2 separate regions of the Homo sapiens genome follow, and region 1 is linked to region 2. Evidence: fine-mapped expression QTL. A gene starts in region 2. The other region holds a variant in brackets. All regions are shown on one strand. Distances are between the middles of the regions.

Region 1 (8,223 bases), 630 kb after region 2:
GATCAAAAGAGACAAAGAAGGCCCTTACATAATGGTAAAGGGATCAATTCAACAAGAAGAGCTAACTATCCTAAATATATATGCACCCAATACAGGAGCACCCAGATTCATAAAGCAAGTCCTTAGAGACCTAAAAAGAGACTTAGACTCCAACACAATAATAACGGGAGACTTTAACACCCCACTGTCAAGATTAGACAGATCAACGAGACAGAAGGTTAACAAGGATATCCATGACTTGAACTCAGCTCTGCACCAAGCTGACCTAATAGACGTCTACAGAACTCTCCACCCCAAATCAACAGAATATACATTCCTCTCAGCACCACATCACACGTATTCCAAAATTGACAACATAGTCGGAAGCAAAGCACTCCTCGGCAAATGTAAAAGAACAGAAATCACAACAAACTGTCCCTCAGACCACAGTGCAATCAAATTAGAACTCAGGATTAAGAAACTTACTCAAAACCACTCAACTACATGGAAACTGAACAACCTGCTCCTGAATGACTACTGGCTAAAAAACGAAATGAAGGCAGAAATAAAGATGGTCTTTGAAACTGATGAGAACAAAAACACAATGTACCAGAATCTTTGGGACACATTTAAAGCAGTATGTAGAGGGAAATTTATAGCACAAAATGCCCACAAGAGAAAGCAGGAAAGATCTAAAATCAACATCCTAACATCACAATCAAAAGAACTAGACAAGCAAGAGCAAACAAATGGAAAAGCTTGCAGAAGGCAGGAAATAACTAAGAGCAGAGCAGAACTGAAGGAGATAGAGACACAAAAACCCTTCAAAAAATCAATGAATCTAGGAGCTGGTTTTTTGAAAAGATCAACAAAATTGATAGACCGCTAGCAAGACTAATAAAGAAGAAAAGAGAGAAGAATCAAATAGACACAATAAAAATGAGAAAGGGGATATCAGCACTGATCCCACAGAAACACAAACTACCATCAGAGAATACTATAAACACCTCTACACAAATAAACTACAAAATCTAGAAGAAACGGATACATTCCAGGACACACATACCCTCCCAGACTAAACCAGGAAGAACTTGAATCCCTGAATAGACCAATAACAGACTCTGAAATTGAGGCAATAATTAACAGCCTATCAACCAAAAAAAAGTCCAGGACCAGATGGATTCACAGCCGAATTCTACCAGAGGAAGAAAGAGGAACTGGTACCATTCCTTATAAACCTATTCCAATCAATAGAAAAAGAGGTAATTCTCCCTAACTCATTTTATGAGGCCAGCATCATCCTGATACCAAAGCCTGGCAGAGACACAACAAAAAAAGAGAATTTTAGACCAATATCCCTGATGAACATTGATGTGAAAATCCTCAATAAAATACTGGCAAACCAAATCTAGCAGCACATCAAAAAGCTTATCCAACAAGACCAATTTGGCTTTATCCCTGAGATGCAAGTCTGGTTCAACATATGCAAATCAACAAACATAATCCATCACACAAACAGAACCAAACACAAAACCACATGATTATCTCAATAGATGCAGAAAAGGCCTTTGACAAAATTCAACAGCCCTTCATGCTAAAAACTCAATAAACAAGGTATTGATGGGATGTATTTCAAAATAATAAGAACTATTTATGACAAACCCACAGCCAATATCATACTGAATGGGCAAAAACTGGAAGCATTCCCTCTGAAAACTGGCACAAGGCAGGGACGCCCTCTCTCACCATTCCTTTTCAACACAGTGTTGGAAGTTCTGGCCAGGGCAATCAGGCAACAGAAAGAAATAAAGGGCATTCACCTAGGAAAAGAGGAAGTCAAATTGTCCCTGTTTGCAGACGACATGATTGTATATTTAGAAAAACCCATCGTCTCAGCCCAAAATCTCCTCAAGCTGATAAGCAAATTCAGCAAAGTCTCAGGATACAAAATCAATGTGCAAAAATAACAAGCATTCCTATATACCAATAACAGACAAACTGAGAGCCAAATCATAAGTGAACTCCCATTCACAATTGCTACAAAGGATTAAAATACCTAGGAATCCAACTTACAAGGGATGTGAAGGACCTCTTCAAGGAGAACTACAAACCACGGCTCAATGAAATAAAAGAGGATACAAACAAATGGAAGAACATTCCATGGTCATGAATAGGAAAAGTCAATATCATGACAATGGCCATACTGCCTAGGGTAATTTATAGATTCAATGCCATCCCCATCAAGCTACCAATGACTTTCTTCACAGAATTGGAAAAAACTACTTTAAAGTTCATATGGAACCAAAAAAGAGCCCACATTGCCAAGACAATCCTAAGCCAAAAGAACAAAGCTGGAGGCATCATGCTACCTGACTTCAAACTATACTACAAGGCTACAGTAACCAAAACAGCATGGTACTGGTACCAAAACAGACATATAGACCAATGGAGCAGAACAGAGCCCTTAGAAATAACACCACACATCTAAAACCATCTGATCTTTGACAAACCTGACAAAAACAAGAAATGGGGAAAGGATTCCCTATTTAATAAATGGTGCTGGGAAAACTGGCTAGCCATATGTAGAAAGCTGAAACTGGATCCCTTCCTTACACCTTATACAAAAATTAATTCAAGATGGATTAAAGACTTCAACGTTAGACCTAAAACCATAAAAACCCTAGAAGAAAACCTAGGCTATACTATTCAGTACATAGGCATGGGCAAGGACTCCATGACTAAAACACCAAAAGCAATGGCAACAAAAGCCAAAATTGACCAATGGTATCTAATTAAACTAAAGAGCTTCTGCACAGCAAAATAAACTATCATCAGTGTGAACAGGCAACCTACAGAATGGGAGAAAATTTTTGCAATCTATCCATTAGACAAAGGGCTAATATCCAGAATCTACAAAGAACTTAAACAAATTTACAAGAAAAAATCAAACAACCCCATCAAAAAGTGGGCAAAGGATATGAACAGACACTTCTCAAAAGAAGACATTTATGCAGTGAAGAGACACATGAAAAAATGCTTATCTTCACTGGCCATCAGAGAAATGCAAATCAAAACCACAATGAGATACCATCTCACACCAGTTAGAATGG[C/T]GATCATTAAAAAGTCAGGAAACAACAGGTGCTGGAGAGGATGTGGAGAAATAGGAACACTTTTACACTGTTGGTGGGACTGTAAACTAGTTCGACTGTTGTGGAAGACAGTGGCAATTCCTCAAGGATCTAGAACTAGAAATACCGTTTGACCCAGCCATCCCATTACTGGGTATATACCCAAAGGACTATAAATCATGCTACTATAAAGACACATGCACATGTATGTTTATTGCGGCACTATTCACAACAGCAAAGACTTGGAACCAACCCAAATGTCCATCAGTGATTGACTGCATTAAGAAAATGTGGCACATATAGACCATGGAATACTATACAGCCATAAAAAAGGATGAGTTCATGTCCTTTGTAGGGACATGGATGAAGCTGGAAACCATCATTCTCAGCAAACTATCGCAAGGATAGAAAACCAAACACCGCATGTTCTCATTCATAAGTGGGAATTGAACAATGAGAACACTTGGACACAGGATGGGGAACATCACACACTGGGGTCTATCGTGGGGTAGGGGGAGGGGGAGGGATACCATTAGGGGAGATACCTAATGTAAATGACGAGTTAATGGGTGCAGCACACCAACATGGCACATGTATACATATGTAACAAACCTGCACATTGTGCACATGTACCCTAGAACTTAAAGTACAATAAAAAAAAAAGAGTCAAAGTGAACAATATGGCAGCTCATATAGAAATCATGCTAGAATAAGAGCTTCTCAATCCTAATATGATTTAATTACTAAGTCTTGGTAGCATATGCATTGATGTATTTTTTGTCAGGTTTAAATTAAATGTTCACTATCAAAAAAAAGAAATTGATAATATTTGCTAAATTGTATAAATAAAATAAAATAGATTAAACAAATTATGAAAAAATATGTTTTTAGTTGTAAGTTTAACAAATCAAACATTAATTTTAATAATCAAAGTATCCCCAGAAAAGATTTTCCTACTCATAAATGTCCTGCTCAAGAACACACACATACATACATGCACACACTCAAAGCCTCACTTAACACCTATAATTACAAAATGGGCTTCCAGTCAGGGCGATTCTAGGCACTGATATAATTCCCATGGAAAACAAGGCATTTAAATTATTCAACAGAAAAATTAACAAAAGACTCAAATACTGACTTGGCTAAAAAGAAAAACATCAATAAACATATGAAAAGAAATTTTACCTCCCCAGCAATTAAAGAAATGCCAAGTAAAACAAAAATTACTTTAAAATAACCAAATGTCTTGTTTGCTTGTTTCTGTTATAAATAAGTGTCTAAGGCTGGCAAGAACTCAAGGACCTGGGTATTCAGACACTGATTGAGCGTTCTGAAGGTAACTTGGTAGCTCGTAAAATAATCTTAAAAACCACATAAAATATGCACACCCATTGGATCAGCATTTTTATTTTCAAAATTTTACTATATGAAAGGTAACAATAAAATAACCACTTAAACATTTAACTATCTTGCAGTGCTGTGAATGATCGCTAAATATTGGAAACAATCCAGCCAGCCAAGAATAGATAAGATGTGGCACAGTCATACAATAAAAACACTGTGATGTAAATACGATATAAAATATATTTAGCACTTAAATGTGTATTAAGAGAAAAAAGTATCATATGAACACTATGACACAGTATTTATTTATTTGTTTAATTAAAAAAATTTTTTGAGACAATCTTGCTCTGTCACCCAGGCAAGATCACAGTGTGTATAGTGGCAAGATCACAGCTCACAGCAGCCTTGACCTCCTGTGCTCAAACAATCCTCCCACCTCAGCCTCCTGAGTAGCTGAGACCACAGAGATTTGCCACCATGCCTGGCTAATTTTTTTTTTGTACTTTTTTTTTTTTTTTGTAGAGACGAGGTTTTGCCATGTTGCCCAGGCTGGTCTCAAACTCCTGGGCTCAAGTGATCCTCCCACCTTGGCCTCCTCCCAGAGTGCTTGGATTACAGGCATGAGCCACTGCACTCAGCCCTGTGATCCATTTTTAAACCATAGACATGCATCAAAAAAAGTCTGTATGTATGGTCACAAACATATTAATACTGGTTGTCTCTGAGTGGTAGAGATATTATCTCTACTAACTATATCTATTAGTACTAGTACTATACTATTATCTCTACTAATAATAATGAGACATATATGCTCATTATTATTTCCTCCTTCTTTCTTATCCATGTGTTCTGATGTCTTACAATGAGCATATGTTACTTATATAATGAGGAAAAATGATAAAAGGGCTTGTGTGTGTGTGTGTGTTTTCTTGTTTGCTCCTTTGTTTTAAGGTAAATGGTAACAAGGGAAAAACAGATGAGACTCCAGGGTCTATAACACGGGTGAGGTTTATTAAATGTATACTCAAGCACTCCTTTTAATATCTGCTCAGGAACAACATAAACAACATTGCTACAAGGGGAAAATATGCCTGACAAATACACATTTCCTTTAGGAAGCAAATACATATGTGACATTCTTTGATCCCACAAACATGAGCACTTCATAAGAGCCCAGCACTGTAGGGTCAAGAAGACACCACTATTTGCAGGTTAGAATGGGTCTGTAGTAAACAGTCCCCTTATGCCTGTGCCAGTTATGAACGGCTCAATCATTCACCTTTCATTTTCCCCAAATGAAATGAAAACCAACTTGACATCCCTTGCCCTCCTCCACCATCCTTACCTTGTGCACACATCATGCACACACACTACACACATGCACACCACACACACCACACCATACACAACACACACATGCACATCACACACACACCACATACACACATTACACCACACACACCACCACACACCACACCACACACACACACATCACATCATACACACCACACACATGCACACCACATACACCACACCACATGCACCACACACATGCACCACACACACACCACACACACACAACACACATACCACACACACAACACTCATCACACATACACCACACACACTATACCACACACACCACACATGCACCAAACACACACATTACACACACCACATCACACACACACAACACACAGTCACTGCACACACACCCCACACACCCCCCCACACGCACCACATACACACCACACACAACACACACACAAACCACACCACACCACACACACACACCCCCCCAACACATGCACCACACACACACATTATTAGCTGTGTGGATGTCTCGACCTCGGGCACCCCCTCCTGCTCTCTGGAACATGTAAGAACCCCAGGCTTAAACTAGATGAAAGTGCTGTCCACCACCTTCCCTTCCCAGCAGGAGTGTTAAAAGAGAAGTTATTTATTCTAGAACTGGAAATTGGAAAACAGAGAATTTGGGTTGACTCTTTGAGCATATTGAAGACTTGCATATTTAGCCAACATGTATTCAGCCAATAGGTCATATTATTGTGGGATTTATCAGAATAGGACTTGTCATTATATTGGAGTTAGTGGCCATCAGTGTGTTTGGCTTAAGCTTGCAGGTGGCATCTGGACACCTGGAGTGAGCTGTGGAATGGGTCTACCTTACTTACTGTAGGTTTCTGCCTAGTCCCAGTTAGAAGCAGGGGTTCTTCCAGGAAAACATGTTAGTAAGAGAGAGAAATGAATATAACCAGACGCAGTAACAAGTGTGGGGATACGAAACAGTATGTGTCCCTTGCTGTCTGTCCCTAGAGACAGATCTGGTTAACTTCAATCAATAACATTTATAAGTAAGTGCAACCTATAGAAGCACAATGGAAACCTTCTTCAACCACGTGGAAAAAAGACCTATGAGAGAAGTGCATTGTAAGCCTGAGAGAGCTATTGGGGTAGATTGCAAGCCCACTAGCTCTATTCCTAAACGTTACCTTGGCACTTTAGGTAGAATCTTTCTCATTTTAGTGAGGACCTCAGCTTGCTTTCTATGGTACTGTCCATTCAAGAATCTATTCTAGTTAGCTTTGCATAAAAACTTGATTCACTTCCTATTAAAGGTGGAAGGCATCTGGGGACTTACACCCTCTCTTTTGCTAATAAAAAACCAAGAGAGCCTAGCAAGGTTAAGAAAATGCCCAACATCACAGATACACCATGGGATACTATGCAGCCATAAAAAGGAATGAGCTCATGTCCTTTGCAGGGACATGGATGAAGCTGGAAACCATCATCCTCAGCAAACTAACACAGGAACAGAAAACCAAACACCACATGTTCTTACTCATAAGTGGGAGTTGAACAATGAGAATACATGGACACAGGGAGGGGAGCATCACACACCAAGGCCTGTCAGGGCATGGGGGAAAGGTGAGGGAGAGCATTAGGACAAATACCTAATGCATGCAGGGCTTAAAACCTAGAAGACAGGTTGATAGTTGCAGCAAACCACCATGGCACGTATATACCTATGTAACAAACCTGCACATTCAGCACATGTATCCCAGAACTTAAAATTAAAAAAAAGAAACTTGCCCAACATCACACAGTTACTCAATAGTAGACCCAGGACTAGAATTTCAAGGTTATCTAGTCCAACCCCCATCAGGTACCTGAACTCTTGTAGAGAAGCCCAGCCAATTGGCTTGGCACCTCATGCTCAGAAGCTTCCAGGAATTTGGGGATTTTGTTTCTCAATTGCCAGGCCAAGGATCCCTTTTATTGCTACACATTTACCTTTGTAAACCTATCTGGCTAAAATAAATGTCAATATGAGCTGGAATTCCTGGAAGATAAAATGCCAAATTACATAGGTAGGGTGAGGCAAGGAGACAAAGTAGAGAAGGTGACCTAGAAGTAAGGTGAGTGGGTGAGAGGTTGAGTTAAACTTGCCTGGTCTTGAACATTTGTGAATAATGCACAGTGTAGGCCAGTTAGCTGCCTGCCTAGTTCTGACTCATTCCTTACTCTCAGTGCAGACATTACTTCTTCCAAGAAATCTTCTCTGACCTCCCAAGCCTAGACTAATTGCCTCTGCCTTGTATGAGTTCCTATGACAGCCTATTCTTCTCTTGCCATTATGCATATCATATGTTATTATAAATTCTTATTTATTTGTGTCTACTTCTTGACACTGAAAGTTGCTCTAGGGTGAGAACTGTGGCATGTTCACGATCATATCCCCAGGCCC
Region 2 (8,184 bases):
CACGGAAGAGGATAAACGGAAAGGTGGCGGCCGGGCACGGTGGCTCATGCCTGTAATCCCAGCACTTTGGGAGGCCAAGCAGGTGGATCACCTGAGGTTGGGAGTTCAAGACCAGCCTGATCAACATGGAGAAACCCCGTCTCTACTAAAAATACAAAATTAGCCGGGTGTGGTGGTGCATGCCTGTAATCCCAACTACTTGGGAGGCTGAGGTAGGAGAATCGCTTGAACCTAGGAGGCTGAGGTTGCAGTGAGCCGAGATCGCGCCATTGCACTCCGGCATGGGCAACAAGAGTGAAACTCTGTCTCAAAATTAAAAAAAAAAAAAATTAAAAAAAAAAAGAAAAGTTGACAAAACACATTTATAGTCCAGGCATGGTGGCTCATGCCTGTAATCCCAGCACTTTGGAAGGCCAACGTGGACATATTGCTTGAGTTCAGGAGTTTGAGACCAACCTGGGCAAGAAGATGAAACCCTGTCTCTACCAAAAATGTGGTAGTGTGCCCCTGTGGTCGCAGCTATTTGGGAGGCTGAGGTGGGAATATCACTTGAACCTGGAAGGCAGAGGTTGCAGTGAGCCGAGATTACACCAATGCACTCCAATCTGGGTGACAGAGTGAGACCCCCGTCTCAAAAATTAAATAGATAAATAATAAAACATATTCATTTGGTCAATAATTATTTTGAATTGGTAGTACTAACTGCTATAGAGGTAGAACAGCTTATTAAAAATGGGTTTTGATGATCACCCAATGGCTCTTGCTTACTTGAAATCCAGAGAAGATGGGCTCAAACTTTTTTTTTGAGACGGAGTTTTGCTCTTGTTGCCCAGGCTGGAGTGCAATGGCGCCATCTAGGCTCACCGCAACCTCTACCTCTGGGGTTCAAGTGATTCTCCTACCTCAGCCTCCCGAGTAGCTGGGATTACAGGCATGCACCACCACGCCCGGCTAATTTTGTATTTTTAGTAGAGATGAGGTCTCTCCTTGTTGGTCAGGCTGGTCTTGAACTCCCAACCTCAGGTGATCCACCTGCTTGGCCTCCCAAAGTGCTGGGATTACAGGTGCGAACCATCTCGCCCCGCATTTTTTTTTTTTTTTTTTTTGAGACAGAGTCTCCGTCTGTCCCCCAGGCTGGAGTGCAGTGGCACAATATCCACTCACTGCAACCTCTGCCTCCCGGGCTCAAGTGATTCTCTGCCACAGCCTCCCGAGTAGCTGGGACTATAGGTGCGTACCACCACATCTGGCTTTTTGTTTTGTTTTGTTTTGTTTTTGAAACGGAGTCTCGCTGTGTCGCCCAGGCTAGACTGCAGTGGCGTGATCTCGGCCTACTGCAACCTCCGCCTCCCAGGTTCAGGCCATTCTCCTGCCTCAACCTCAGCCTCCTGAGTAGCCAGGACTACAGGCGCCCGCCACCATGCCCAGCTAATTTTTTGTATTTTTAGTAGAGACAGGGTTTCACCATGTTAGCCAGGATGGTCTCCATCTCCTGACCTCGTGATCCACCCGCCTTGGCCTCCCAAAGTGCTGGGATTACAGGCAGTGAGCCACTGCGCCCGGACATGTTTTGTATTTTTTGTAGAAATGGGTTTTTGCCACGTTGGCCAGGATGGTTTTGATCTCCTGACCTCATGATCCGCCTGCCTTGGCCTCCCAAAGTGCTGGGATTACAGGTGTGAGCCACCGTGCCCGGCCCAAGAGCTACCCTGTTTCTAGACCAGATGTCTCTTCCAGATTAGTTGGACAAGAATTGCAACACAGTCTTTTTTTGTTTTTGTTTTTGTTTTTCTGAGACAGGGTCTCACTCCCGTCACACAGACTGGAGTGCAGTGGTGCAATCACGGCTCACTGCAGCCTCAACCTCCTGGGCCCAGGTGATCCAACTCAGACTCCCAAGTAGCTGGGATTACAGGCATGTGCCACCATGCCTGGCTAAATTTTTTTGTATTTTTTGTAGAGACAAGGTTTCACCATATTGCCCAGGCTGGTCTCAAACTCCCGGGCTCGGGTGATCCACCAACCTTCACCTCCCAAAGTGCTGCAATTACAGATATGAGCCACCATGCCTGGCTACAACACAGTCTTTATTTACTTTATCCCCTGCCCCTCTGCATAACCACCACACACAACACTTCTCAGGGAAAGATTTCCTGAAAGTGGAGAGCTTGACTGAAGATTTAGAAAGCAAGCAGAGGAAAGGCTTGTACTGTAATAGCATGAATTTCTTAAAACTCAACAGCAGGCACCACCATTCTCTTGCACCCACCTAGTTCTAGTCTCTCTTTTTTTTTTCTTTTTTATTTTTGGAGAGACAAGTTCTCACTATGTTGCCCAGGCTGGTCTTGAACTCCTGGCCTCAAGTGATCCTCCCACCTCAGCCTCCCAAAGTGCTGGGATTACAGGCATGAGCCACTGCACTTAGCCCAATCTCTTTCTAATTGTTGATTTCTTTCTTCCCTTCCTTTTTTTCTTTTGTTTGCCTGACTTTTTTTTTTTTTTTTTTTTGAGATGGAGTCTTGCACTGCTGCCCAGGCTGGAGTGCAGTGGTGCGATCTTGGCTCACTGCAAGCTCCGCTCCCCGGGTTCATGCCATTCTCCTGCCTCGGCCTCCTGAGTAGCTGGGACTACAGGTACCCACCACCACGCCCGGCTAATTTTTTGTATTTTTAGTAGAGATGCAGTTTCACCCTGTTAGCCAGGATGGTCTCGATCTCCTGACCTCGTGATCCACCCACCTCGGCCTCCCAAAGTGCTGAGATTACAGGCATGAGCCACCGCACCTGGCCCACCTGACTTTTATCAAGAGCATTTTTTCTCTTTCTTGCTCGCTTGCTTTCTTTTCTTTTCTTTCTTTCCTTTTTTTTTTTTTTTTTTTTTTGAGATGGAGTCTTGCTCTGTTGCTCAGGCTGGAGTGCAGTGGCACAATCTCAGCTCACTCCAACTTCCGCCTCCTGGGTTCAAGCGATTCTCCTGCCTCAGCCTCCCGAGTAGCTGGGATTAGAGGCGCCCGCCACCATACCTGGCTAATTTTTGTATTTTTAGTAGAGATAAGGTCTCACTATGTTGGCCAGGCTGGTCTTGAACTCCTGACCTCAAGTGATCTGCCCGCCTCAGCCTCCCAAAGTGCTGGGATTACAGACGTGAGCCACCATGCCTAGCCAAGAGCATTTTTTTTTTCTCCTTGAATCATGAAAAGTAGTATAGTGGTATTTAATTGCGTGGGTTTCTGTCCATGAGGTCTCACTCTTCATCAAGCGCACACTTTTCAAACAAAGATGGTTCTCTGTCCTAAGAATATCTGGTTCTTCCTACCTCGACTTCTTTCTATAAATATTAAAGGTAAAAACTATGCAGTCTTAGCCCAGAGCTTGGAATGTTAATCTCCTTTCCCAAAAATGTAGAACACAGCACTAACCACTTGTGGAAGCTACAAAGATGAACAGTGCTTCTAACTATAAACAAGGCCGAATATGATAAAGGCTCTGTGATGATTGAGTGTCAACTTGATTGGATTGAAGGAGGCAAAGTGTTGTTCCTGAGTGTCTGTGAGGGTGTTGCCAAAGGAGATTAACATTTAAGTCAGTGGACTGGAAGGAAGTGACCCAGTCTCAATGGTGGGCACCATCCAATCCGCTGCCAGCGACGCTAGAAAAAGTAGGCAGGGCTAGGCATGGTGGCTAACACCTGTAATCCCAGCACTTTGGGAAGCCGAGACGGGTGGATCACCTGAGGTCAGGAGTTCGAGACCAGCCTGGCCAACATGGCGAAACCCCATCTCTACTAAAAATACAAAAATTAGCTGGGCATGGTGGCGCATGCCTGTAATCCCAGGTACTGGGGAGGGGGGCGGGGCGGGGGTGGTGAGGCAGGAGGATCGCTTGAACCTGGGAGGCCAAGGTTGCAGTGAGCTGAGATCGTGCCACTGCACTCCAGTCTGGGCAACAGAGCGAGACTCCGTCTCAAATAAATAAATAAATAAATAAATAAATAAATAAATAAATAAAAGTAAAAGTAGGTGGAAGAAGCTGACTTGCTGAAGTCTTCCGGCCTTCGTCTTTCTCTCATGCTGGATGCTTCCTGCCCTCGAACATCAGACTCCAAGTTCTTCAGCTTTTGGACTCTTGGACTTACACCAGTGGTTTGCCAAGGGCTCTCGGGGCTTTGGCCACAGACTGAAGGCTGCACTGCCGGCTTCCCTACTTTTGAGGTTTTGGGCCTTGGACTGATCCACCACTGGCCTCCTTGCTCCTCAACTTGCAGACGGCCTAATGTGAGACTTTACCTTGTGATCCTGTGAGGCAATTCTTAATAAACTCCCTTTCATATATACATTTATCCTATTCACTATGTCCCTCTAGAGAACCTAAGGCTCTAACAGCGACGTTCAGAGGATCTACAGATATCTGCGGTAGACACGCCCACGAAGTCGCCTCTGTGCCTACCTATCGGGTCCTGTGACCACAGGCGACCTCAGTCCCCGAACCATCTTTGCAGCTTCTCAAACGCACACCCCAGTGCCCTTTCTCGCCACAGGTGTGAAACTACATCTCCCGACAGGCGGCGTTGTCCCCTTCCTTCCTTCCTTCCTCTCCCAGGCCCGAGCCATGGCAACAGCGTGACGTGGGGGTACCGAGATCTGCGGGAGCAGCGGTCCCGGCTTCAGTTCTAGCCTACCCGGCAGCCTGGACGGGAGCAAGGCGAGAGGTGCTGCCGCCTCCCGTCGCCCCTGCGCTCAGAGGTCCCGAACCAGCCCAGCCGCTGCCTCTTGCCGCTCCGCCTTTGGAGTGAGGAGGGCGCAGCCCGCGTCAGAACTTAGAGGGCCAGGCAGGGTCGCGCGCATGGCCTGGGCGGGCTCGCGGCGGGTCCCAGCTGGGACGCGCGCGGCAGCCGAGCGCTGCTGCCGGCTCTCGCTCAGCCCGGGCGCGCAACCGGCCCCGCCCCCAGGCCCTCTGCCACCGCCGCGACCAATGAGGTGAGAGGGAGGTGACCGCGGCTGAGGGCAGGGGGTCGCTGCGAACCCCGGGGTTCCGCGGTGGAGGGGTGCTATACTGGGATGCAGGCGCGGCGGGGACTGGCAGCAATCATGCCCTGGGAGCTAACGTAGAGCTTTGGATAATGCTTTTGCAAGTTGTACGAGAAGGGAAGTTCTCGGGGTGAGTGTCCAACCTCTTCTTGGCCCTCGCGGGCGCCCTGGGGTCCCCGGGGACAGTGATGCTTCCTTAAAGTCTTAGCTTTCAGCAGTAGTGTAGGCCCAGTCAAAGGCAACTGGCGCTTCCCACACACCCCTTTTTCTCATCCCCCTCACCCCGCCCCCAGCCCTGTCCTTAGCTGCCCTCGACCTTTTGCACTCGTGACTCCCTGGCCAGAGAGAGCCTAGCGGGCTGCAGCAGGTGCTGGGGGGAAAGCTTGTTTGGACGACCTTCGTCTGGGATGCACTCTTCTTCTCCTTCACCTACAAATGATAGAGGATTACGAAGAACTATACGGTTGGCTCCTCTTTCCTTTGGCCTTAGGTTTCTGACCTCCTGCAGCCTCCTCTTGCCTCGGGCTGCCCAGATCTTGGCGGCTGAGGCTGGCTTACCTTCGAGCCGTTCCTTCATGGGATTTGCTGCTCCCTTCACCAACAAGCGAAAGGCTTACTCGGAGCGTAGAATCATGGGGTAAGCATTCTCTGCCTTGCATCCTTGCACCTCCCTTTTCCCTCCAAATAACCCTGTCCAGGCAAGAATGTCAGGGTATCATCGGTGGGCAAGATTCATCCCTAGCCATCCCCCTCCCCAGCTACAATACTGATCCTCAGTCCTCCCCTGCCACTCTTCCGACCTTAATTTCTCCCTTCTTGGTTGCTGTGCATGTGCTTAAGTGAAATGAGACTAGGGTTGGACTATACTTTAAGACAACAGGGCGTAGCTGGGTGCGGTGGCTCACGCCTGTAATCCCAGGACTTTGGGAGGCTGAGGCGGGCCGATCGTTTTAGGTCAGGAGTTCGAGACCAGCCTGGCCAACATGGTGAAACCCTGTCTCCACTAAAAAAAAACACACACACAAGAATCAGCCTGGCACGGTGGCGGGCGCCTTTAATCCCAGCTATTTGGGAGGCTGAGGCAGGATAATCGCTGGAACCTGGGAGGCAGAGGTTGCAGTGAGCTGAGATTGCCCCACTGCACTCCAGCCTGGGCGACAGAGCAAGACTGTCTCAAAAAACAAAACAAAAAACAGGGTGTATTTTTCTGGTGACCATTTAAAAATAATTTTTATGGGTACCTAGTATGTGTAAATTAGCAGCGTAACCTTTTTAGTATATTTTGAGCATAATAGCTAAATTATCGAGCACTTGCTACATGCTAGCAGCTTGACTTAGATGTTTTACATAGATATTTCTCATTTAATTCTCACAACAAACCTATAAATCAGGTGAGAAAATGGAGACACAGGTAATTTACCTAAGGCCACATTGTTAAAAAATTGTTAAGAGCTGGGATCTGATCCTTGTGTGATCACCAGTAAAACTGACAGCCTCTGTTCTCCCTAGATGGTCCCTCTTAAAATCAAAATAAACAATGAATGCAAAAGCATTCTGTAAACTGCAAAATATAAGGTAACAGTATCATAAGGATTTACACGTTTGCTTTTGGGAAGTTATTCATCCAGGCTTATTTGGGATCTGTAGTTCCTGAAGGTGCGTGGTTAGTGGGCAAAGGTATGAATTAGGGGCCTATAGCAAGGAGGAACCTGACCCAGCTGGCAGCTCCTTGGCCTGTGATTCTTCTTCTCCTAGGTACTCAATGCAGGAGATGTATGAGGTGGTGTCCAACGTCCAGGAGTATCGTGAGTTTGTGCCCTGGTGTAAGAAGTCTCTGGTGGTATCCAGCCGTAAGGGTCATTTGAAAGCCCAGCTGGAGGTTGGCTTTCCACCTGTCATGGAACGTTACACCTCTGCAGTTTCCATGGTCAAACCTCACATGGTCAAGGTGAGGCCTGTATGGGAGGGATTGACAAGATTTTTTGTTTTTAGCAGTTTCATATGAAAGTGCTATTTTGGCCTTCCTTGTAAGTACTTTATGTCCATGTGTCAAGTATTTCCCTCATATCAGAAAAGAAGGAAAATGGCTTTCAATTCCTTTATATTGTATCCTATACTTAGTAATGTTATTTAACTACCTGATTACCCTATTCTAGGCTGTTTGTACTGATGGCAAGCTCTTCAACCACTTAGAGACTATTTGGCGATTCAGCCCTGGTATTCCTGCCTATCCTCGAACCTGCACTGTGGACTTTTCGGTGAGTCAGGAGGTTGTGTAGCAGAGGACGAGGACTGGGTATGAGGAAGGGCTGGGGTACTGTGACAGGGTTATTAATTTATTTGAGATGGAGTCTTGCTCCGTCACCCAGGCTGGAGTGCAATGGCACGATCTTGGCTCACTGCAACCTCCACCTTCTGGGTTCAAGCGATTTTCCTGCCTCAGCCTCCCAAGTAGCTGGGATTACAGGAGCCTGCTACCAAGCCCGACTGATTTTTTATTTTTAGTAGAGACGGGGTTTCACCATTTTGGCTAGGCTGCTCTCAAACTCCTGGCCTCAGGTGATCCGTCCGCCTTGGCCTCCCAAAGTGCTGGGATTACAGGCGTGAGCCACCGCACCGACCTGACAGGGTTATTCTTTAAGTATAGCTAGCATTTCCCAAGTCAGTTAGTCTGAGCTTGTGTCAGACTCGTACTCCGTGCTCAGTCCCAAGTTAGGGCTCTTACGGGGATCCACGAACTGGATGGGGAGGGGGAGAAAAGGCACTGAGGAACAGTTTCCTTGCATTTGGCCAGGGACTATCCAACATGGTCTGGAAGTTTCTGACTGTCTCTTACCCATTCCCAGATTTCCTTTGAATTTCGTTCTCTGCTGCACTCCCAGCTGGCCACCATGTTTTTTGATGAGGTTGTCAAACAGAATGTTGCTGCCTTTGAGCGTCGGGCAGCCACCAAGTTTGGTCCAGAAACAGCCATCCCCCGTGAACTGATGTTCCATGAGGTGCACCAGACTTGAGGCAAGGGATTGCTCCCTGACCTCCCTTCTACCCCACTTCCCTACACAATTCTCTTATTTATTTGGTTTGGCTCCTGTTCCAATTTGAAAGGAGTCTGTGTTCATAATACTGTTTCTCCTCTCAATTTCCCAGAAATTGGGTTC

What was found.
Region 1: its variant is fine-mapped to the expression of COQ10A in spinal cord (GTEx, PIP above 0.99).

The regions. Positions count from the first base shown.
Region 1 is chr12:56,890,286-56,898,508 of GRCh38, forward strand. No RefSeq gene overlaps it. Among named protein-coding and RNA genes, the nearest start is that of SDR9C7, 40 kb to the right of the region's middle. The variant C/T (reference allele first, on the strand shown) is at 3,090.
Region 2 is chr12:56,262,278-56,270,461 of GRCh38, forward strand. It overlaps COQ10A (coenzyme Q10A), which reads left to right and starts at 4,665. Exons shown (of 5, transcript NM_144576.4): 1 at 4,665-4,975; 2 at 5,517-5,663; 3 at 6,782-6,974; 4 at 7,183-7,284; 5 at 7,873-8,184. The coding sequence starts at 4,842. The coding sequence ends at 8,040. RefSeq lists enhancers at 119-288, 1,742-1,911, 4,558-4,667, 4,736-5,235, 4,759-4,928 and 1 more, a silencer at 4,768-5,097 and a cis regulatory region at 4,844.